3 separate regions of the Homo sapiens genome follow, and regions 2 and 3 are each linked to region 1. The links come from fine-mapping of genetic effects on gene expression. A gene starts in region 1. Each other region holds a variant in brackets. All regions are shown on one strand. Distances are from middle to middle.

Evidence for each region.
Region 2: its variant is fine-mapped to the expression of BNIP3 in whole blood (TOPMed, PIP above 0.99).
Region 3: its variant is fine-mapped to the expression of BNIP3 in whole blood (TOPMed, PIP above 0.99).

What each region holds. Positions count from the first base shown.
Region 1 is chr10:131,977,085-131,985,260 of GRCh38, forward strand. It overlaps BNIP3 (BCL2 interacting protein 3), which reads right to left and starts at 4,839. Exons shown (of 6, transcript NM_004052.4): 1 at 4,677-4,839. The coding sequence starts at 4,722. RefSeq lists an enhancer at 4,018-4,942 and silencers at 4,350-4,579, 4,810-5,109, 5,160-5,349, 5,390-5,509.
Region 2 is chr10:131,891,697-131,899,872 of GRCh38, forward strand. It overlaps the pseudogene LOC100134362. Among named protein-coding and RNA genes, the nearest start is that of PPP2R2D, 5.2 kb to the right of the region's middle. The variant A/T (reference allele first, on the strand shown) is at 4,366.
Region 3 is chr10:131,866,586-131,874,761 of GRCh38, forward strand. LOC105378565 (a long non-coding RNA gene) reads right to left here. Exons shown (of 2, transcript XR_946487.4): 1 at 8,158-8,176. Among named protein-coding and RNA genes, the nearest start is that of PPP2R2D, 30 kb to the right of the region's middle. The variant T/C (reference allele first, on the strand shown) is at 3,931.

The DNA of each region.
Region 1 (8,176 bases):
CAACATGGTGAAACCCCGTCTCTACTAAAAATACAAAATTAGCTGGGCGTGGTGGGCGCCTGTAATCCCAGCTACTCGGGAAGCTGAGGCAGAAGAATCCCTTGAACCTGAGAGGGGGAGGTTGCAGTGAGCCGAGATCATGCCACTGCCCCCCAGCCTGGGCAACAATAGCGAAACTCTGTGTCTCAAACAAAAAAAAAAGACACTGCTCAGGAAGCCCCAGGGGTTTAGGTGCTCTGCACCAGGAAGTAGGTAGGGTCAAGACCAAACACATACTGTAATCTATCACACAAGGGGCAGGCTGAAGACAACAGGGAGAGGAAGATGAAGGAGAGACAAGTGTATCTCTGTCATCCTCTGCGCTACTGCAACAGAATCCCACAGACTTAGTGATTTACGAACAGAAACTGATCTCTGTTCTGGAGGCTGGGAAGTCCAAGATCCACGCACCAACATCTGGTGTCGGCTGAGGGCCTTCCTGCCTCATCCCTTCAATGAGGCTACAGAGGGACCCACCTCCCTCCATCCAGCCCCTTAGAGCACTAATCCCATTCACTAGAGAGGAGCCCCTATGGCCGAGCCACCTCTTAAAGGCCCACCTTTTACTACCATCCCACTGGCAACATGGAGGAACACATTCGAACCAAAGCAGTGCTTTTTAAACATCACCCCAGAAAGGACCTAAAAATCCAGGAAACAAGGAAAAAAAACTCACTCCAGATTGTCCATGGCTAATGACTTTGGGCCCAAAAGCTGTATTCCCAGGAATGATTTACTAAGGGACAGGAGTTTTATTATTAACCCACAGCAACCGCGTAGGAAAGGAAGGCACTTCCTGGAGAATGGAGCGTGCTGTGTATCTACTCACGTGTTACAGTTCTCCACTCGGATCGTTCACCTTTTCAAAGAAAGATGGGCTTACAGTAAGGTTGCTTAATAACCTTAGAAAACTTGCTCATAATCACAAGCAGTTTACACTTCAAATCACTGTAGTATAATTAGGCCCCAGACGGAAAGGTGCTGCTGTTGCTGCTGCAAGAAAAGCCCTCCTTCCTAATCTCATTTCGCGTCCCTCTCATGTTCCTCCCCCTCCTCACTCACTTATAATTTACATTGCTAACAAGACACACAGCCAGTAAATCTTACCTCCCTCCTATATCAAGGTAGATGAGATTTTGAAAAGCCTAGACTATAAATATTTATATCACAGTACAAAAAGAAAACTGATAGGTCTGCCTCAGAGACAAAATACAGTCCAACAAGAGTTCTTAATCCATTTCTTATTCTCACTTTGTGTAAAAAAAAAAAAAAAAAATCATCTGACATCCAGCTTTTCTAGGTGCCCAAAGCAGTTCTCCCTCCAGTGACAGACTCCAGGGAATCCCTTCGATTCACTGCCCTCTGTATGTCCCAGGGCAACTCCCTGGGTCCCATTCCTCAACATGGATTCATGGGCCACAGCCACGAGCCCCACGTGGAGTAAACACAGGGCCAAGTTCTCAAGGCCACCCTATGCCCTAACCTGGGGTGACAACCTCAACTCTGGCTATGAAGGGAGAATCACCTGTGGTGTTTTTTCATTGTTCTCCAAAAGCCTAGCCTCAGCCCACTCTGAAAGTGACTATTTGGGATGCTGGGGTGGAATCCAGGCAAATAGATTGAAAAAGCTCTGGGATAAATGTCAGAACAGAGGGAGGCAGCATCCCAGAAAAAAAACCTGAAGCAGAGGAGCTGTGAACCCCCGAGGGAACTAGCACCCCAAAACCATACAAAGGGCTTCTTCCCCAGGGGAGGTGGGCTCTAAGAAATTGCTGTTTTACCTTTAAAGCTTCTCAGGTTAGTGGGGAGAGAACAAAAGAGACCCGCCTGACAAAAGATTTCAAGTATCAAGTCAGCTGGGTAGGTAAATCAGGTCCCTGGCTTCCAACGGGGCTCGTTTCCCTCCACCTTCCTGTTGCCTCCAGGACCTCTGGCCTCCTCTCCTCCAGGACCCTCCAGGGCCTATTGCACGCAGCCTCAGGCATCTGGGCTCCAGGTATCCCACTGCTGCCTCATGCAGAGACCTTGGCTTCTCCTTAAGTGTTGTTGCCAGCCTTATCTTTCACTCCACCTCTAGAACCTCATTGTGACCATCTATGAAATGCAAGTCTTGGACGAGAATCTCGATGTCTGCAACCCCTTCAGGTCTCAAAGCACACAATGCTACAACTCCACTCCAAAATAAGTAGAAAACATCTTTTCCCCTCATACAACTTTGCCCATGGTGAGTTGCCTCTGACAAGAGAGAGAACCATCTGCCAGTTGCAGACACAGCAGTGGGTGAAGAGGTGAGGGCTTGGATTATTAAACACGGCCCTCCAGAGTAAATGGGCATGCACTTTACTGAACTGATGCCCTCCTGGTGAAGACAGTGGGTCCTTCAAGGAAGTGATGCCCCCGCCACCGTGACACGGTCTCGTCACAGAATCCTACCTCTCCTGCATGTTAGCAGTGACATGTCTAGGAGAAAAGGGCCAAGTTCATGGCTACAGTGAGCTATAATGATTGTGCTACTGCACTCCAGCCTGGGGGAGTAAGACTGGGCTTGTAAAAAAAAGGAAAAGGACAAATACGAGCATCCTGCGAGTCAACAACTTTAGCTAGAATGATCAAGAGATAGAAAGGAACAGAATCAGCCCATTTTGCCATTAACTCTTTAGGAAAAGCAGTTGGCCCCAGAGGGTACACTCAGAGGAGAGAGTGCTTGCTGCTTCCATCCGTGGGTCTGGCTGCAAGGCTCCCATTGTTCTCTGTTCCGAGGTCAACAAGGGGCAGTGAAATCGGACAGGCAGAGGTGAGCGCTGCCTGAGCCACCGCTCCGTCCCGGATTTGCAGGCAGCTGGAGCCCGCGGGACCGGCCAACCCCGCCCACGCCGAGCCCACAGTGGCCCCGTCCTGCCGCGCGGACACTCAGGGCGGCCCAAGGAATCGCCTACATGGGATCCACCCCGCGGGTAACTATCTTTTTATAGAATAAACAAAACAGAAAAACAAAAATCTCGTAACTCCGGCGCTGGCCGCCTTGCACTGCCAATGACTCAGCAGCCTGTGTAAGTTACATATTGGAGAGAGGACCGAGCCCCCCGGAGCCCCCTCCACCTCCCAGCGCCCAGATCCCAGCCGGACAGTGAAACGCACAATGTCAGGAGTAACGCGGCTTCACAACCGGAAAATGGGTGATTTTATGGCAAAGAGTTTATAAAAACATCCCTTGGACTTTATTTTATGACAAAAGATAGGAAAACACCTCTTAATCTATTTCAAAATAGTAATTAGCCAATGTTTAAATTTCAAGAGGAAAAATCCGAATTACAGGATTTTAAAGAATATGGTTTTAGGCCAGGCGCGCCTGGTGGCTCAGGCCTATAATCCCAGCACTTTGGGAGGCCGAGGCGGGAGGATCGCTTGAGCCCAGTTCAGACCAGCCTGGGCAACACAGTGAGACCCCGTCTCTTAAAAAAAAAAAAAGGTAAAAAAAAAAAGCTTGTAGTGTTCATATGTATATATATATATTATTCAATATATTACGGTAACTAAGTCCTGCCTAGTAAAATCTTTTTTTTTGTAATAAAATTAGCAACTCACTAAATTTATGTGAATATATGGTTTTAAAAACTCTCAATGAAGATTAAAAGTTCACTGTCAGAGGTTTCAGCAGTCCTTTCCCAAGCTTATTTACATGCTAATTTTGCTTAGTAAACTCTGGCTTCAAAGAACACAAAGGTCAGCTGCCACCAGGTCCCTCCTCCGAGGCTTTGGCCCTAGGGACCCTGGGAAGGCGGCTTCAGTGCCCGCTTCCCTGAGCAAAGGCTCGTCTGGACTCTGACGCGGACCCACCGGGTGGGGTGGGTCTCCACGCCACCCGGCTGTGCGTGGGGCAAGTCCTGCACCCCGGGCCTGCGTTTCCCGCTGCGTGAACGGATGGTCTTGCGAATCTAGCCAAGGGCACACAGCGAGCCTCTACTCGGGCATTAGGCAGGCTGTAACGACTGAGTGCTGCACGGGCAGCGTCCTTTTGCTTGTGTTTTCTTAACCCGTAAGTCATTTAAAGCTTTGTTTTGGAACGACCCTCTAGTGAAATTGGAACATGCCCATTTAATGCCATATTTTAAAAACGCTGTAACCCCCTCCCATCTCCGCGTTCACCCTTGAGGAAATCCTAACAGTCACCATGGATATAAACATTAATAACAAAATTAAAGCTCATAACAGGCCACTTGCCACGCCTTGGTGTTTGGTCATTAAAACCAATACTGGTCTGAACTACAGACCGCGGAGGGCAACGTGGACTTTGAGGCTGTTCGGTCCAACTGCGAGACGCAGATTCACCTCCAGGTGGAATTCTAGCTCGCGCGGAGCTGGAGAATCGGGGCTTTCCCGTGCGGTCCGACCCGGGTCCAAGCCAACCCCCGCCCGAGTGGCGAGGCCGCGAACCCCGGGCAGTACGCGGGGTCCCCACGCCCCGGGCTCCGCATGCCCGCAGGAGGGGTGGGTACGGAAGGGGAGGATGGCGCAGCCTCGCCCGGCCCGCGATGCCCCCTAGGCCTCCCCGGCAACCTCCCCTTGGCGCCCTCTTGGCCTTCCCCAGGCTTCCCCCCCGCGCCCCCTCGGCTCCCGCGCCGCCTCCTCCGCCTCACCCTGCAGGCTCTCCTCCTGCATCCCGGGCGCTCCGTTCTGCGACATGGCGCCAGAGGGCAACTGCGGCGATCGGAGTCCGCGCCGGGCTGCGGGATGTGCTTCAGCTGCGGGCGGTGGGAAAGCGGAGGTCGGAGCGCCGCGGCCCAGCTGCGCTCCCGGACTGAGCGGAGCCCCGCAGCCCGGCCGGAGGAACTCACAGGGCAGGGCGGGGCCGGGCGGATCTGCGGCCGCGTCGCCCATTGGCCGCGACTTGGGGCCTGCGCGTGCGCAGGGGCGTGGGGTGCGTGTGGCACGTGCGGCGCGTGCGCGGGGCGGGTCCTGCGGTGGGCGAGGGGCAGAGGCCTGCGGTGCGCGGGACGCGGGCGGGGAGAGGGGCGGGGCGAGGGGCGCGCAGGCGCGAGGGCGGCAGCGACCGCCTGAGGTGAGCCGGCCCGGGCTGGACGCCGCGGGCCGCGTGACGAGTGGGCTGCGCGGTCGCCGCCGCGGCGGGCGGTGGGCCGGGTTCTCCTTTGAAGGGGCGGTGGGACCGGCGGACTCTCTGGGCACTGGCTACCACGGAGACGCCGCTACGCTTCGGGGCGGGGCCCGTCTTTCCATCCTGCTAGTGGGGAAACTGAGGCGCGGGGCTGGCGGCGTCCGTGCGGGGGGCGTGAGGACGTGCAGGGAAGCGGCCGCTGCGGCTCCGAGACGGCCCGTGGGGTCGGGACCTGCGCCCGGGGCGGGAGCTGCGAGCGGTGGGCCGGAGCTGAGCGTCTCGGGACGGGACCGCGTCCCCGGGTCTTTGCCCGCCCCGCCGGGGCGCCCCTGCGTGAACAGCGGGGCCCGTTGTGTCCGGGGCGTCCGCCCGCAGGAAGAAGCGGAGGCTCGAGCAGAGTCGAAAGAGTCTGCCCGAGGGAGGCGCGGACCCCAGGGGCCCGGGAGAGGCGCGCCGTCCGCCTCTGCGGCAAGGGGCCTCCGGGGTGCAAACGCGGTGTGGGGCGGGCGTCCCCGGGGTGGGACGCCCCGTCCACGGGGCGGAGTGGCGCTTGGTCGGGCCGGGTGGGTGCCCGGCTTCCGTGGGAGCCAGCCTGGCGTGGGGGCCTCGCAGCCTCGGGACTGGGAGGCACTTTTCAGAGGAAAGTCGCTTTCTCATTTCCCGCTTTTGATCAAAAGTCTTTCTTCTTGAAAGCATTGTTGATCCAAATCCAAGTGTCAAGGTGCGCCCCAGAAACGCTGCTTCCCAGACAGTCGTGTCTGGTCTTGCGGGAAAGGAGGAGGCGTCCCGCCAAGGAACCAGGCGCTCAGAAGCTGAACCGGGGTCACAGAGCCGCGAAGCCAGACCTCAGTCGCTGCGTGCATTTCATCCCTGCTCTTGCCTGTTGAATCGTCTCTAGTCTTTGGAGTGCCATGATTTTAGTTTTCTCAGGAGTAACAAACATCCAGAGGCCAGTGTGGGGCGCATGTCTTTCATCTCAGCACTTTGGGAGGCCGAGGCAGGAGGATCGCTGGAGCCCAGGAGTTGGAGACCAGTCTGGGCAATATGGCGAAACGCTTTCTCTCCCCTAAAAAAATACAAAAAACTTAGCTGGGTATGGTGGCACCTGCTGTGGGAGGATTCCTTGAGCCCAGGAGGTAGGGGCTACAGTGAGCCATGATCAGGCCACTACCCTCCAGCCTGGGCAACAGTGTGAGACCCTGTCTCAAAAAAAAAAAAAAAAAAACCGCCAGAGATACATAGCATAGCATTAATAATTTCGATAGTAGAACTGTAGTGCTGGCCAGGCAGTGGTTCTTGTGTGTAATCCCAGCATTTGGGGAGCCCAAGGCAGGAGGGTCACTTGAGCCTGATAGTTCAAGACCAACCTGGCAACACAGAAAGACTCCATCTCTATTAAAACAAAAATGTTACCAAGTACGGTGCACATAAGGATTACAATGAAAAAGAGAATGTGTATGCCAGAATGAAAAACGGAACCTATTCGAGGGAGTCAACTAAAAGTATTACGAAGAAAATCAAATGGAGAATTGTTCAGAATAGTGTAGCCTAGTGGCTTGTACTTTTTCCCATATGAGTTTCTACTTCGTGGAAAGGGTTTATGCACATCAAGAGGTATTTGCCACCATACATAGACTTGCTTGCTCAGCTAATAATCGAAAGCAATGCAGTCGTCCAGTGCAGCCTTAGCCAGTGAGTCAGTAGCTTTTTGTTGGGCTGTGATGGAGGCAGCAGTTTCATCAGCAATATTTCCTGATAGGCCAGATATGCTCGCAGTCATCCCAAGTAAAAGCAAACAAATACTGACTCTAGGTCCACTGGAATACTAAAGAAGGCACTACATAAATGAGTCACAGTGTCTCACTTCCAGCTGCCGAAAGAGGATGGGGCTTTGGTACTACCAGATGTCTGGGGATCACAGTGTTGATGACGGTTCTCAAATCTTGTACAGAATACCAGCTCTTCCCATTCGGCTTCCTTACAAGAAGGATTGGAGTATTACATGCTGGCGCAAGGAATAATTAGACCCCTTTTAATATAGTCTTTTGTTACGGATCTTATTCCTTCATTTGCTTCAGGCCTTAGAGGATATTGTCTGATATTGGGTAAAGGATTAATCAGGTTTACTTCCACTTTAATGAAAGTGGCTGAATATATTTTACTAATGTCGGTGGAAGACTCTGACCATAAGTGGTCTGACAAAGCTTGCCCTAAGCCATCCGTGTCATTAGTGCCAGTTGAAAAAAAAGTTGTTTGATCTGTATTTTTATAATTTCAGTAATTTCTCATTCTGTAGTTTTTCCATTTGCTCCTTCCATTCTAAACCTAAATCCATTTCTTCCTTTTGGGAGAAGGAAAGCATGCATTGTGACGTTCCAACACAAAATGTCTGCCTAAGAGATGTCTGAGAGGTGGGGGAATGAAGAAAAGAATGAGGGCCCTGGGATTCTAAGGGCTTGGACTTGTATCCAGTGATAGGCTGATGAGATAACCCTACCGTTTGTACAGTTCCATTACTCCAAGGAAGGAGACAACTTAAAGTGGACGAAAAGAGTGGCACCAGTGTCTTTGAGGGCATGTGTCTGTTCTTCATTTATGGCAATGTCCATTTCTCCTAAGGCATTAGTAGAAATAGGAACACCTCCCTTCGATCATCAGAGCAATCCTGTTCATCATGTGGGATCCTGGTTTTTCACTGGTCCTGCTGTTAAATTTTCTACAATCTTTTTTGAAATGGCCAGGCTTTTTACAGTAGAAGCAAACAGCCCTTTTGTCATTAGAAGGAGGCCCTGTCTTTTCTTAAAAGGCCTCATTTGGTTAGTCAGTTCTTGTAGTTGCAAATTCATAATCTTTGAGACCTTAGTTTTTTTCTTCCTTCTGAATTGTCTTAGGAAGTTGATCTGCATAGCTTACTAATTTGTGGGTTTGTATATTCACCCGGTTAAGCTGGTATCTTTTTAACTTAGGTAACCAAACCCTCACTTAAGCCACTGAGGAAAGTAGAATTTATGAGGAGTCATTCTA
Region 2 (8,176 bases), 85 kb before region 1:
CCACATTTTTCTGTCTTACACCTGTACTTCGGCTCGTTATCTTAAACTGAACAGTGAAGGCTTTGAGAGTGTGTCCCCTGGTTCCGTGCGAAGGGCCACGCCCAGAAGAAAAGGAGCTGCTCCACCCAATGGGAGGAGTCCGGGGAAAGAAAAGGGGACAGGGTTCGGTTCCCCACAATTCTACTCCCCTCCAGCTATCTGGGAAAGGACCTCAGGAATGCATGCCTCTGCCTCTGCCATTGCAAGGTGAGGTCCAAGGGCCATGCCGCCAGGCACTCTGGGCTTAACCTTCTGCATAGAAGACAAGAACACCAAACTCCAGGAAGGTGGGATTCCTTCCTGGTGGCTGGGCTTGGAGGGAAGCTGGGAACCAGAGAGAGGGCCTCGGTAGAAACTGCCGGGAGGCTGCTCCAAGGGCAACTGGGAGAAATCCGAGGGGAGCAGAGCCTACAGCAGCCACGCATGTGGAGAAGAAGACAGGAAATCCTTGAAAGAGAGAGCTATTGGGAGGAAGGGCTAAGGAGTTCACATGACGTGCTCCCCTGGCCAATCTGCAAAGGTCAAGGATGGGGCGTCAGGAGCGGCCCCTCCAGCCACGGCACAGGATCCACTGTGTGTTCCCCGCAGCACCGGCGAAGCAATCAGCCACAGCAGCTGCGTGGAAAATCCTGCCCCACCACCATCCTCTTGTCCCCACGCACGACGATCCCGGGAGGCAGTGACCAGAGGGTTCAGTTTCCAGGTCACTGCATGAGGGTGTCCTTCTTGCCAGGCAGAGCCAGTGCTGAGGCTCCCCTGCAGCCTCCCCACGCCATGGACGGTGGAGTCGGAAGCATAAAAGCCCCAGGACTGCGCCGTGTTTAATAACATCCAGACTCGAGGTCACAAGCCCCAGCCTCAAGGTTAGAACTTACCTTAAACTGGACTTCGATTCTTGGTGATTGTGAAGCCTTAAGCAAATTATCGAATCCCTCTATGCCCCAGTTTCATCATCTGAAAAAGCAGGATGACAATACTCAGCTCGTAGAGCTTTGTAAGCGCTGAATGAGGAGCAGGTGAAGTGCTCAGTGCCATTCTGGACACTTGGGCTGTGTCCAGGGTGCCGCTAAGAGCACAGTCGACCCCTCTTCATACCTGCACCTGCCAGCAGCTCACAAGGTGGCCCCTGCTGAATAAAAGCAGGGGCAATTAGTAGTGGACTGCTCATACACGGCTATGGTGTCAGCATGTCAACGTGAATCAATGACTGAACAAGACACCGAGGCTCAAGGACAGCAGGGGACAGCAAGATGAGTGAGTCTATGAAAGCCCGCGTATTTCTGCATGTACACGTACTTGCTTTCTTTCCCTGCTGTAACACATTACCGCAATCTTAACGGCTTACAACACCTATTTATTCTCTCACAGTTCCTCAGGTCAGAAGGCCGGGCAGTTTTGCCTGACTGGTCTTCTGCTTAGGGTGGTGGGAGCCTGAAATCAAGGTGACAGCAGGCCCACGCCCCTTTCTGGAGGCTCTCGGACTGAATCTCCTCCCAGACTCTTCCAGGCTGTGGTCTGAATGCTGTTCGTTTGGTCAGATTCCCATCTTCATGCCGGCTCTCAGTCAGGGGCTAGTCTTGGCTCCCCGAGGCGGCCCAGGTTCCTGCTCATGCCCTTCACGCACCCCTCCACCACCCGCCGGCCAGGTCCCTCTCGTGCTCTGATGCGCTCTGACTCTCCTTTCTGCTGAATCTCTGACTGCAGCTGGAGAAAGTTCTCGCTTTGAAATGCTCACACGATTAGATTAGGCCCGCAAGGATGATCCAGGATAATCTGCCGAGGTTAAATCCTGGAACTTTAAGGCCATCTGCAAAGTCCCTTTAGCCATGCAACGTAACATAGCCACAAGTTGGCTCTGGGGATTGGGGCATGGACATTTGGAGGGTCATTATTCTGCAGACCACACACATGCACACATCTCTCTTGTTCCTGGAACACCGATGTTCTCTCCACCACATTCAATACAGCGTGTAGAGATTTTTTTTTTGTTTGAAACAAGGAAGGAGTGCAGAGGAAGAAAGGGGACAGGCAAATGCCCCCAGGCCGGAGAAGAAAGGCCCAGGAGACAGGAGCAGGTGACTGTGGGGTTTTCCTTCTCAATTCACAACACAGGGCTAGTCACATCCTTCCGTCCATCCCTCTCTTCCTACCTCCCTTTCTTTTTTCTGTTCCTTCATTTCTTCCCATCTTTCTTCCCTTCCTTCAGCATGTGACAAAAATATGAGGATCGGATCTTTTCTGGCAGGAGGAAAGAAGAATGATGGGATGACATCTAACGCCTTGCCGGGCTCCAGCAGTACGAGGCAGCCATGTGTCAAAAGTCAGAGACACAAACCAGCACGTGCCCCTCTAATCACAGAGTCTCAGTGCAGGTCCTCCTGCCATTGCTCTTCCAGCCAGCCCACAAGCCGGGCAGACAGGGTGCCTCCGCCTCCTATTAGCAAGCTTCTAAATGTGGTTTGTTTTCCATGGAAAGATTGCACATCCTACCAATAGGCTACATCTATGATAACACTGAGATTGTTACTAAGTCTGAAATTGAAAATAATCCACATTTGGTATTTTCAAATAATATTTAGTAGTTGAAATCTAAATAAATCAAAATTATTTTAGGCTAGGTGCGGTGGCTCACGCCTGTAATCCCAGCACTTTGGGAGGCCGAGGTAGATGGATCACTTGAGATCAGGAGTTTGAGACCAGCCTGGCCAACATGGTAAAACCCTGTCTCTAATGAAAATACAAAAATTACCTGGACGTGGTGACACACACCTGTAATCCCAGCTGCTTGGGAGGCTGAGGCAGAAGAATCCCTTGAACCTGAGAGGCAGAGGTTGCAGTGAGCCAAGATCGCGCCACTGCACTCCAGCCTGGGCGACGGAGCGAGACTTCGTCTCAAAAAAAATAAAAATTAAAGGCCGGGCCGGTGGCTCACGCCTGTAATCCCAGCACTTTGGGAGGCTGAGAAGGGTGGATCACGAGGTCAGGAGATAGAGACCATCCTGGCCAACATGGTGAAACCCTATCTCTACTAAAAATACAAAAATCAGCTGAGCGTGGTGGTGCACATCTGTAGTTCCCAGCTACTCTGGAGGCTGAGGCAGGAGAATTGCTTAAAGCAAGGAGTCGGAGGTTGCAGTGAGCTGAGATCACGCCATTGCACTCCAGCCTGGCAACAGAGCGAGACTCTGTAAAATAATAATAATAATTTAAAAAAAGAAAATTAAATAAAACATATTTTAAAATAAAGGTATTTGGGGGAAGTGTGATTTGCAGACTCTTAAGATATAAAGTCCTTCATAGACTTGAAGAAAATTTATGGTAAGTTAGACTTTAAAATAATTCATTTGAGCTCTTTCCTTTTGCTGCTGTGGCCGCAGCCATGAGCACGCTCAGGCTTCAGAAGAGGCTCGCTGCTAGTGTCCTCCGCTGTGGGAAGAAGAAGGTCTGGCTGGACCCCAAGGAGACCAATGAACTCGCTAATGCCAACTCCCGTCAGCAGATCTGGAAGCTGATCAAAGATGGGCTGATCATCCCCAAGCCAGTGACTGTCCATTCCAGCTCGATGCCGGAAAAGCACCTTGGCCCGCCGGAAGGGCAGGCACATAGGCATAGGTAAGCAAAAGGGTACAGCCAATGCCCGAATGCCAGAGGAGGTCACGTGGATGAGGAGAATGAGGATTCCGTGCTGGCTGCTCAGAAGATACCGTGAATCGAAGAAGCCTGATCGCCGTATGTATCACAGCCTGTACCTGAAGGTGAAGGGGAATATGTTCACGAACAAGCGGATTCTCATGGAACACAGCCACAGGCTGAAGGCAGACAAGGCCTGCAAGAAGCTCCTGGCTGACTAGGCTGAGGCTCGCAGGTCTAAGACCAAGGAAGCACGCAAGCGCCGTGAAGAGCGCCTCCAAGTCAAGAAGGAGGAGATCTTCAAGACTTTGTCCAAGGAGGAAGATACCAAAAAATAAAAGCTCCCCCGTTGTCCGTACATACTGGCCTCCGTGATTACATAGATCAGCCATTAAAATAAAACAATCCTTTAAAAAAATCTGTTTTATTGAGGTATCATTCACATACAATAAAATGGGTCCACTTTAAGTGTCTTTTTCAATGAGTCTTGACAACCATTCGTGCTGCATTAACAGCTGCGGCCATCAGGATGCAGAACACTTCCATCAACCCAGGGAGTTCTTTCCCACTCTCTCCAGTCCATCCCCCACCCTCTCCAGTCAATCCCCACACTCGTGCCCCATGCCGTTTTTTTTGAGATGGAGTCTTGCTCTGTCACCAGGCTGGAGTGCAGTGGCGCGATCTCGGCTCACTGCA[A/T]CCTCCGCCTCCCAGGTTAAAGCAATTCTCCTGCCTCAGCCTCCTGAGTAGCTGGGATTACAGGCGTGCGCCACCACACCTGGCTAATTTTTGTGTTTTTAGTAGAGATGGGGTTTCACCATGTTGGTCAGGCTGGTCTCAAACTCCTGACCTTGTGATCTGCCCACCTCGGCCTCCCAAAGTGCTGGGATTACAGGCGTGAGCCACCACGCCCAGCCCCTGTGCCATTTTTAAAATCACTGTAGAGCAGTCTCACCTGTTCTAGAACTTCAGGATTCTTCAGAGAAACCGTGTATGGAATGAGCTTTATTTTCAGGAACTCACTCACACAATTGTGGAGGCTGACAAGTTCAAAAACAGAGGGTGCACAGGGTGAGCAGGGCAGGCCGGCAGGCTAGCTCAGGCAAGGGCTGATACAGCAGCCTGGAGGCAGAATTTGTTCTCCAAGAAACCTCAGTATTTGTTCTGAAGGCCTTTGATTGATTGGATGAGGCTCACTCATATTATCAAGGGTAATCTCCTTTTCTCAAAGTCAACTGCCTGTGGGTGTTAACCACATCCACGAAACACCCTCGTGGCAATACTTGGCTTAGTTCTGATGAAATAACTACATACTATACCCTCGCTACATTGACACATGAGACTAAGTATGATAAAATAAAGGGGCGCATGCAGCTTGCACGCCTCCGTGTCTGGCTCCTTTCATTTTCGTAATATTTCGGGGACTCATTTGGGACTGCTGTTTGTATCAGTAGTAGCTCATGCCTTTTAGTTACTGAACAGTACTGCCTTCTATGATTACAATAGGCTAGATTCTAATACACACCAGGCATTTTCAATTCAGCTGTGAGATCTGAAAAACAATTTTAAAAAATAAAATTGCTGTCAATACTCAGAAACTTGTAAACACCAATTAGAATCCAAACAGAGAAATTCATTGAGCTATTAGGTTGGCGCAAAAGTCATTGTGGTTTAGCCAAATATTTTAAGTTTTTAGCATCATAAGAAGAATAGTTAAAAATCTCTTTTTAAAAAATAGTTAAAAATCTCTTGCTGGTCAGCTGATGCACAGTGGGACGCAGGGAAGGCAGCCCCCCAGTCTCAGGAATATGTTACTTTTGTGGCTATATCTTGTTTTTAGTTTAATTTAATGGGAGCTAATGAACCAGAAAATACATTCTAAACAAAAACTAATTATCTTGTCATCACTTCAAAAGACATATTTAACACACATTAAAGCAGTTACATAGGAACTAAGAATAAAATCCTACATCCCCCACTGGCTGAACGAACACCCCTGTGGCCAGGGGGGGCCCCAGGAAAACCTCAACACTGAGGCTATAATGGGGGATGGGAGGTCAGACAGGCCTCCTGATACCCCCGCCCTTTTGTGGTTTGGACACAACAGACCAGCGTTAACGTTAAACTAGAGACCATAAGACTGACAGAACGGACTCTGTGGCAGTAAGATGCCAAATCATAAACAGGGCCTAAGGCCGTGCGGGGGGAGGGTGAAGCCACGCACCGCACACTTACAGAGAAAACGTCGTTCCCACTGCTGTTGGGTTTTCCTTCCCTCCAGCAGCTAAATAAGCACTGGCCTTGATAGGAGCAACATTAAGCAACTGCAGCTCCACCAGCCACTAAGTGACCCCCAGCCCTGCTCCAGCAGCCGTAACTACAGCTTTCATTGGACAGAAGACTGTAACTGTCTCCTGATAAGAAACCACCGACCTTGGACTGGTTCTGGCCGGTTTACAGAGGTTGCACATCTGCATGCCTTCCTGTCCTGAAAAGACCTCTTGAGGTACAGGGCCTAGTCCTAATTTACTTATTTATTTATTTATTTATTTATTTAGAGACGGAGTCTCGCTCTGTCGCCCAGGCTGGAGTGTAACGGCACGATCTCGGCTCACTGCAACCTCTGCTTCCCAGGTTGGAGGGATTCTCCTGTCTCAGCCTCCCAAGTAGCTAGGACTACAGACATACGGGCGCCACCACGCCCAGCTAATTTTTGTATTTTTAGTAGACAGGGGGTTTCGCCATGTTAGCCAGGCTGATCTCGAACTCCTGACCTCAGGTAACCTGCCAGACTTGGCCTCCCAAAGTGCTGGGATTACAGTCGTAATATATTCAAATGTTTAGTCTCCCCGACAGAGTGAGATTGGGTCCTATGTTACATAATACACGTGTCAGGAGCCCCTTCCTGAGTATTCATAGCTCCTCCCAAAGCCTGTTGTCTATGTATGTTTAGCCAACCCGTTCAGCATAGAGCTCCTGCCCCAACTCCTCCTCCTACGAAGAGCCATCTCCCATCTTGGCCTGGGGGATGGCCACCTTGCTGGCTGTAACCATTTATAAGAAATAAAGTTCCTCTTTTTCTAAATTTATAAATTGTCAGGTTTTTAAGTTAACAAATAAAAGAGATCTGGTCATTAATTCAGGTTTTCAAGTGTCTTCCTGGGCAGATAGGCTAAATCTACATTTTAAAAACAAGATTACAGCCCCATTTTTCTGCTCTTCTTCTCCTCAACAGAGAAGTAGGTATTCACTGCCTCTAGTTCCTCTCCTGCCACTGTCCCCAGAGCCCTCTGCAAACTTGTGATCTGAGTCCATTCCATAGCCACCGCTCCGTCCAAGTCAGTAATGGCCTCCCAGTCCCTACAACCAAATGGTCACTCCTGTATACTCATCACATAGCATCACAGAGCAGCCACTCCCTCCTGTCTTCAGTGGATCCTGGAGATGGGTTCTCCAGGAGCCCACCTCGCAGGCTGCTCACTCATCCTCCACGTCCTCACCCCTTCAGGGCTCTGTCCTTGGTCCTGTCCCCCATCTGTCCTCCCTCCTGAGGTGACCTCACCCAGTTTCCTGACTTGAAATGACCTCTAAATGCTCTCACCTTGATGCTCTGGCTCTGACTTCCCTGTGTGCTCCCAGCCTGTCTGTGCAACAGCACTATGTGTTGACAGCGAACCTCTGGTCGGGCTGCACCGCCCCCACCCAGCTGTGCCTTCTGCTGCAGAAACTCCATCCTTCCAGGTGCTCAGACCACCCGAGAGCAGGCATTCCTAAGTCCCTGCTTTCTCTCACACCGCATCTTTTCCATCAGCAAATCCCAGGGGCTCTGCTGTCGAAGCACTTTTCTCTGAAATCTGACTGGTTCTCACCACCCCACCCCATGTTCACCACTCTATCCTCATCCCCATGCCTGGTCAGCCCAGCTGGCCACCTGATTGGTCTCCCTGCTTCCCCTCTTTGGGTCCCCACAAGCTATTCTCAGCAGAGCATCCAAAAGCCCAAGTCCATCACGATCGTCTTCTGTTCATGAGCCCATCTCATTCAGAGTCCAAGTCCCCTAAATGGCCTGCCCACTGTCCATCCTCCTCCACTTACCTCCCTGCCTTGACTCCAACCCCTGGCCTCCCCTCCACTCACTCTGCACCCACGCAGCTTCTGGCTGCCTCCTGCCCATGCCAGGCATGGCCCTCCTTCCTGTCCTGGCACTTGGTGGTCTCCCCTTCCTGGCCAAGCTTTCCTAGACGTCTGCATGGTTTGCTCTTTATCCTTGAGTCTTCTCCAGTCACCCCGTGCAAGACTCCAACTCTCCCCATACACATTTCCTTCTTCCCTGATTTTTCTCTCCAGCTCCGACTTATTATGTATTTATTTCCTTATTGTCTGTCTCCCCCACTGAAAGGTAAGCTCTACCAGGGCTGAGATTTCTCTGCTCTGTTAACCTCTCACCCCCAGGGCTGTGGAGTGTGCCGCACGTGGCAGGAGCTGTCAATAAATAATATTAATGGAGTGG
Region 3 (8,176 bases), 110 kb before region 1:
ACTCCACCTCAAAAAAAAAAAAAGAAAAGAAAAGAAAAGAAAGAAATCCTGGCTCTGATTTCCTGCAGGTGCACATGCTGCAGAGTGAGTTTTACAGTGGGTTTGAAGTTCAAGAAGGATCGATAAAAAAAAATCCAATTCAAATATGGGTGAAAGACTTGAATGGACATTTCATCAAAGAAGACACACAGACGGCCAATAAGCCCATGGAAAGATGCTCAACATCACAAATCATCCAGGAAATGCAAATCAAAACCACACTGAGATACGCCTCACATCTTGATGGCCACTACCAAGAAGACAGAAATTAGCAAATTAACTACCCATATTCCGTAATTGCAAAGTGCTTCTGGGCAGAGCAGATCAAGACAGCCACGCTCATTAAAAATTCCAAGCGACTCCACACGATTTGCTGACCCTCGCATTCATTCTTGCCTTTTCTGTCCTCGAGTGTTGGAAGGGATGTAGAGTAATTGGAGCCCTGCGCACTGCCGGTGGGGGTGCAAGACGGTGCTGCTGCTGTGGAAAATAGTGTAGCTGTACCTCACAAAATTAAAAACAGAATTTCCATATGATCCAGCAAATCCACTCCTGGCTTAGCCAGGTGCGGTGGCATGCACCTGTAGTCCCAGCTACTCCGGAGGCTGAGACAGGAGAATCACTTTAACCTGGAAGGCGGACGTTGCAGTGAGCCAAGATTGTGCCATTGCACTCCAGCCTGGGCAACAAGAGCAAAACTCCGTCTCAAAGGAAAAAAAAAAGTCCACTGCTGGGTATATACCTGAAAGAACTGAAAGTAGAGGGTCTCACACAGATCTTTGCACACCCATGCTTACTGCAGCACCATTCACAACAGCCGGAAGGTGGAAGCCACCGAGCCCATTGATGGATGTGACTGGATGAACCAAATGTGGTCTCTCCAGACAATGGAATATCATTCAGCCTTAAAAAGAAGGAGATCCTGACACATGCTACAACCTGCACGAACCTGAAGACATTGTGGTGCGTGAAATAAGCCAGTCACGAAAGGACAAATACCGCATTACGCTACTCATGGAAGGAAACTGGAGTACTTGAATTCATAGCGAAAGAAAGCAGAGTGGTGGTTTCCAGTGGCTGGGGGTGGGGAGATGGGGAGCTAGGCCCAGGGAGAGCGGAGTGGTTTGTGGTCCTGTTCTAGAAAAGTCTCTATTTGGCCAGGTGCAGTGGCTTACTCCTGTAATCCCAGCACATTGAGAGGCTGAGGCAGGTGGATCACTTGAGGTCAGCAGTTCAAGACCAGCCTGGCCAACATGGCAAAAACCCATCTGTACTAAAAACACAAAAATTAGCTGGGTGTGATGGTAGGCACCTGCAATCCCAGCTGCTCAGGTGGCTGAGGCAAGAGAATCGCCTGATCCTGGGAGGCGGAAGTTGCAGTGAGCCATGATCATGCCACTGCACTCCAGCCTGGGAGACAGAGCAAGACTCTGTCTCAAAAAAAAAAAAAAAAAAAAAAAGAAAAGAAAAAAGAAAACTCTCTATTTGACCATATTAATAGGGTTCTTTACCCATGGGAAACCTATGTGGACTCTTCAACTAAGGACTTTTTTACAAAAAATAGACTGATACAAGCAAAAGGACTTTGGAGCAGCCTTTGAGTCTTAAAACCTGGTAGGTGGGTTTTACTCCCCATGGAGGAGTTGAAAGTCTTGTCCTTGCTGAGGGAGAGCTGCCACTGCTCTGTCCAGGCCTTGGGAAGAGATTGCAGAGGTTTGTTGAAAAGCTGAGGGCAAACGGGGTCATGATTCACCAGTGGTTCATAATAAGAGTCGTCGTAAATTTCATCCTAAATCTACTTAAATGGAGATGAGGGGAAACTGATTCACGTGAAGAAGAATCAAAGGGAAGGTCTGAGGAAAGGTGGTCTCGCCAACGCGGAGGTGGTGGTCGTACCTAGCCACCTGCCTCCCGCTGCCCTTCAAGGCAGCCCAATGCTCCCAGCATGCACAGGGGTGGCTGGATGTCCCCTCCCCAGATTCCGGGGTTCTCCCAGCATGCACCACGGTGACCTGGACCACTGCTGCAGAGAGAAGGGTAGGCCAGCTGTAGGGAGAGAGAGATGGCCGGGCATGGTGGCTCATGCCTATAATCCCAGCACTCTGAGAGACCGAGGTGGGAGGATCACTTGAGGCCAGGAATTCAAGACCAGCCTGGCAACATAGAGAGGCCCCATCCCTACAAAGAGAGAGAGAGGAGCTCTAAGCCATCTGCTAGAGGTGCACTTTCCCAAGCACACAGGCCTATTGCATTTAAATTTCTTTTTTTTTGAGACAGAGTTTTCCTCTTGCTGCCCAGGTTGGAGTGCAATGGCACGATCTCGGCTCACTACAACCTCCACTTCCCAGGTTCAAGCAATTCTCCTGCCTTAGCCTACCAAGTGGCTGAGATTACAGGTGCCCACCACCACATCTGGCTAATATTTTGTGTTTTTAGTAGAGACAGGGTTTCACCACGTTGGCCAAGCTGGTCTCAAACTCCTGACCTCAGGTAATCTACCCGCCTCAGTCTCCCAAAGTGCTGGAATTACAGGCATGAGTCACCATGCCTGGCCTAAATTCAAATTAATTATAAAGAAATGAAATCTGAAAATCACTTCTTCAGCCACACCAGCCACATTGCCAGTGCTCAGCAGCTCTGTGTGTCTAGTGGCTGCTGCACTGGGCAGTAGAGACCTAGAACACTTCATCTTGGTGGGAAGTTCTAGAAGGTTCTATTCACAGAGCTCTCCTGGGGGTAAAACTTGGATTCTGACCTCAGGGCCACATTCTCCCAGCCTGGGAATGAAGGTCCCAGATCTGGAGGATTGGTTGTTTCAAATCTACTTCAAGGATTGCACAATCCCAGCAGCAAGAGGAGAAACTTGAGAGGACTCCGCCTTCCTGCCCAGATGCGGGGTGGACGCTCCCCAAATACTCCACAGTGTGGAAGTCAAAAATGAAGCTGCAGCGGTGCTGGTCTCCCAGGAAAATGGAGGGCAGCTTCAGCCGGGCTCGGAAGAATGACGTTGTTGGTGAGTAATCTCAGATGACGTAAACCCACATTTACTAATAAAATCTCCAGCATCATCCATATAAGGTAGAGTTGACTTTTCACCTCCTAAAGCCTTCATAATTGCTCTTATTTTTATGCTAGAATGTTATCTCTGTTGAAATGTTGGGTTTTTTGCATCCTATTAAAAGTGTTAATAAGCTGTGTTTAAGACCTTACTTTGCAATTATGTTGAGCCAACTAAATAAATCAATACTGACTTTCAGCCCATTTAAGGAGTAAAATTGAACTCCTGCTAATTTAACAAATATTTTAAAAATCAGAGTTGATGAACATGTTAATGTTGTCCAAAATAAGTGTATTTAATTTGTGGTGATAAACATGAGGCCATCACCCACCAATCCTTCGGCAGGGAGGTGGGGAGGACACAAGAACGGGGGGCAGGCAACAAAGTGCCTTTGGCGGGGCCAGGCTGCGGGGCCTTCCCACACGCCTGTCCATGGTTTCTCACTCATCTGAGAAGCAGCATTTTCAAAGCACTGCCTTCCCCTTGAATAAGCACATGTCTAGCGGAGGCAAGTGCAGGTGAGCTCTGTGGGGGTCCTTGGGTCCCCAGGACCTGTCTTGCCAAATACTTTCCACAGCTCAACTCACCAACAATATCCCCCTTTCTTCCCCCGACATGGCACATGCTGTCATCTTTAAAGGGTAAAAATGAGCCCAAAGACTAAAACCCAGATCAATTCCCAGGCAAAAGCTTCAAAACCTTCGGATTGTCATGTCTTGAATAAACAACAGAAGTTGGTTTAAATCAAAAGGTCTGAATGGCTGAAGCTGAAGCCACCCTCCAGCCAGGGGAGATTGAGGGGCCAGGCAGGGGCAAGCCTGCCCAGGACCAGG[T/C]CCCTTCACCCTCACCTGCTGGGATCACACCAGGGAACACGGCCTGGAAACGGAGGCTCTCCAACCCGAGCAACTCGTCCAGGATCACCCAGGGAGTAACTACGGGGCCCATTGGCCAAGCTGGGCAGGATGACACCTGCCGGGGCTTTCCCCAGATTCTGGGCAAGTGAGCTTGCTGCACCAGGGATCTGGAATGTGGCCTGGACCTGCCAGCCACACAAAGAAAACGTCCTACGAAATTTATTAACTCTTTTTTAATGCCAATATTTCACTATGTATAACATACTTATTCATTTTAATATAGAAAACAATGCTTCCGTGAGTTGTCATGGAGTAAGATCGGTGCTCCGGGAAGATGCATGGTTTTTATGCAGATTATACATTGTGTATACATTGTGTATACATTGTGTGCTTCTGTTATACAGCGGTGAGGGAAGCCATCTGGCCTGGGGCTGGATTACAGATGGGAGCTCCACCCAGCAGACGGAGTTGGCGAAAGACACACATTTTCTTTTCCTGGCATTAACTTCTTATCAGCCTAGATGGCAGGATTAGGGATGAGACAAGGATGCTTCCAACGAGAGAGCACCCTTACTCACACGCCTTCCCATGAAGCACACTGCCCGCAAGTCACAGGGTGCGGCCCGGGGCCCAGAGCATCCATGCCTCCAACTCGTGGAATCACATGTCCTTCCTGGCAAACTAGTGACAATAAACAACATGTACCATTCTAGACCACCATTCAAGTCCTCAAATATCCTGCAAATGCACCCAAATTACTCTTTTACTGTTATTTATATTATCTATGGAGTCTCATTTTTCCAAGTAAATTATTCTCTGCTTGACTCTGATATATTAGTTTGAAATGACAAGTATTAAAACAGTGAACACAAAATGAGCTCCCAGATAAAGACAAATGAATCTTCAGGTCTAGTGATAGAAGTTCCTGGAAGCCTATTTGAAATCTGTGTACTTAAAATATCAGGTGACTGAGAGATGCAGTGAAATGTAATGAGTCACACTCCGTGCTCCTTGGAAGCGTCCTTGTGGCAGGAACTGTGAGGTTACACAGCACCAAGGGGTCTCGAGTGTCTACAGCATGGGGCACTCACTATTCTCAGCTGCAGATTTCAGACACCCTCACAGGCTGAGTCCAACCAAGAGGAAATCGGGAGCCTGGGCCCAGGGTCCATGCAGGGCCTGCCCTTGGGTCCTGCAAAGGTTTTCTGACCAGCTGGGTGTACCAAGCTCTGGGGAGACGCCGGGGCTCCAGGGCTCACAGCCGGGAGCAGGAGTGGGCCGTGAGCCAACCCTCAGGGCAGGATGCTGGACACCCAGAGGAGAAACTTGGTGGCACAGAGGGTTCTGGAAAGTCCTCCCGGGGACTAGAGGTCGGAACTGAGTTCGTCAACCTGTAACCAGAAGAATCAGAAATCCCTGCTGTCTCAGACCAGTGGGGTCTCACCATGACAGGGAGCTAGGGGACAAGAGAGAGAGGAGAACGTGGAGTCTTTCCAGCTCTGGAATCAAGAGCAGGGTATTAACCCCTGACTTCAACGCGGGAGCCTTTAGTCCGAGCCGGGGACACAGGCACACAGGCCCCATTCCCAGCAGCCAGAGCCCATGGCAAACCCGGAGCAGGCCCGGGGGTCTCTGTGGTCCCTGAAGGCGGAGACAATGGCAATCAGTGGGAGCCCTGGCCAGACCCCAACTCAACTCACCCGAGGCTTACATAGGGGATCCTCTGTGAACGAGCACCCCCAGAGAGGTGGAGGCCCACCCTGGCCCTCCAGGAGAACACAGGGCAGCGTGCTGTGTCCTGGGACATAATTCTGGTCCCTTCCCTTTTGTTTCCCAGATAATGTCTTCCCAGGAAGTCCCTCTCGCCACCTCCACCCCACCCTCAAAATGCCAGGAGCCCGCGTGGGTTTCTGAATCCACCACTGTCACTCTTGCTGCCACCGGGTGCCACTGCTGTAGACAAGTCCCCTCAAGGACGGGGGTCCCTGCAGGTCCTCAGCGGTGCCCATCCCTGGGCTCTGGGCTTAGTGCTTCCTTCCTTCGTGCTATGGCCACAGCCACCGCCCCAAACACTCCGTGCATCAGGGCGGCCTCACAGGCCCAGGCGTCACCATGCCTGCCGAACCCGCCTCCTACTCAGCCAGACCCCAGGCTCTCCCTTCCCTCAAGCACCCTGTGATGTCCCCGGGTCCTGCCCTGCCTGGGATCTAAGTCAGGGCCCTCCTAATCCAACAGAGGAGCTGCCCGAATGCTGAGCCTCACGAGGAAAAGATCTCTAACTGGATCCCATCCTCCAGAGGTTCCCAGGCTGTCATGCCCTCCCGGGGACCTCAGTGAGGCAGCGCTGGTCCGTGATTCCATGAAACCAAAGAGCCTGCTGCTCACTCCCTGGAGCTGCACATCCACTCTTACTAACCACACGGGGGAGAGGTCCCGGCTCGTCCTCGTGCTGCACTCCGAGCAGGCAGGAGCAGGGCAGCCCAGGCTTGCCAGCTCCCTCACAGAACAACCTCAAGTGGCTGTGGCTAGGGAGCCCAACTCCAGGTTCCACCCCTGCTAGGGAGCTGTTTCCTGAGTCAACAGTGGTACCGAGTGTGACCGGCATGGGGGGAAAGCGGGTCACGCAGCAACCCTGGACGCTGGCTTTGGAAGGGGTGGACTCTGCTCCTGGGCGCTGTGGGGACGCCCTCATTCCCGGGTTGTGGCAGCACTGAGCGGAGGCCTGAGGCGCTGGAGCTAGTTCTGGACAGCACCTGGCCACTTTCCCCTGCACAGCCTGGCATGTCCGCACCTGCACCCTGCAACCACTCCCTACAGGAGCCCCTTCAAAGTCAGAGGATGCCGCAGGCTTTGAGTCTCCTCAGTAGGGGACCCCCATAAACAAGGAGGCCTGTTTCTATAATCAGAGCTTCCTGGAGCTCTGGAATTCAGAGCAGACATTAATTCTACTTTTTTTTTTTTTAAGACAGAGTCTTGCTCTGTCACCCAGGCTGAAGTGCAGTGGCGCAATCTCAGCTCACTGCCATCTCCGCCTCCTGGGTTCAAGCGATTCTCCTGCCTCAGCCTCCTGAATAGCTGGGACTACAGACACATGCTGCCATGCCCAGCTAATTTTTTGTACTTTAGTAGAGACAGGGTTTCACCGTGTTACCCTAGCTGTTCACGAACTCCTGAGCTCAGGCCATCCACCAGCCTCGGCCTCCCAAAGTGCTGGGATTACAGGCGTGAGCCACCGTGCCCGGCCAACGTTAATTCTTTAATTCAACAAACGTGTATCTGGTCTACCTCGGAGCTTGGGGGGAATTCCTGGGAGGCCGGGAAGGACAGGCTGAGGCCAAGGACATGGTGCTCAGGCCAGGCCCAGTGCCATGCAGGGAGACCTCAGAGGCTCTGACCAAATCCACCAGGAGAAAGCAGAGTGGCCCAACCACGCCCACCCCAGAAGGAAAATGCCTCAGTGTCTCTTTCCTCTGTGCTAGAAAATGGCTTTGTTTCCCTCAGGGCGCTGGAACCGGACCCCGTGCAACTTCTCCCAGGAAACTGGTCCCCGTGGCCCATCTGGGAGACCCTCATTCCTGCATCCTGACACCTGCTCTTCCGAGGGGAAGATTCCACGGAAACAAACTCCTACCCCCCAGCTGAGACCCCTCCACCCTTAGACTCCATTCTGGGGGCTGGAGCTTAGAGAGGCATCTCCACACTCACCCAGCCGATGCTTCCCTGGCTGGGGGTGGGAGGGCCCAGGGTTTGGAGGGCAGCCCCCGAGGAGGTGCACACTCACCTCCTGGCTTCTTCCTGGGAGGCTCAGCAATGCTACACATGCCCAGCCCTGCTCCAGAAATGCAAAGTTGAGGGACCCATGGAAACGGTGGAGGTGTCCGTGTAACCAACAACACATCTGCAATTGCACCCGTGATTTGGCAAACCTACTTCTTTTCTCTTAATTTTACTGGCCGGATTTGGTGACATCAATAAGCAAAGCTCTAAACCTAACATCACAAAACCTTTTTGAAGACTGAATCGCGACAGAATCTCCCACTTTCTTCTTCACAACTCGAGTGGAAACCAGATTAACATTTAAAATGAAATAGTCACGGAATATTTTAATAGCATTTCTCAGAGACCAGAACTTTGTTCCCTAGTGGCCAACCCAGGAGGAAGATTTTGTGTCCAAACTCAGGAGAAATGAGCATTTTTTTTTCCTACCTGTTTCTTATGAGGTGAA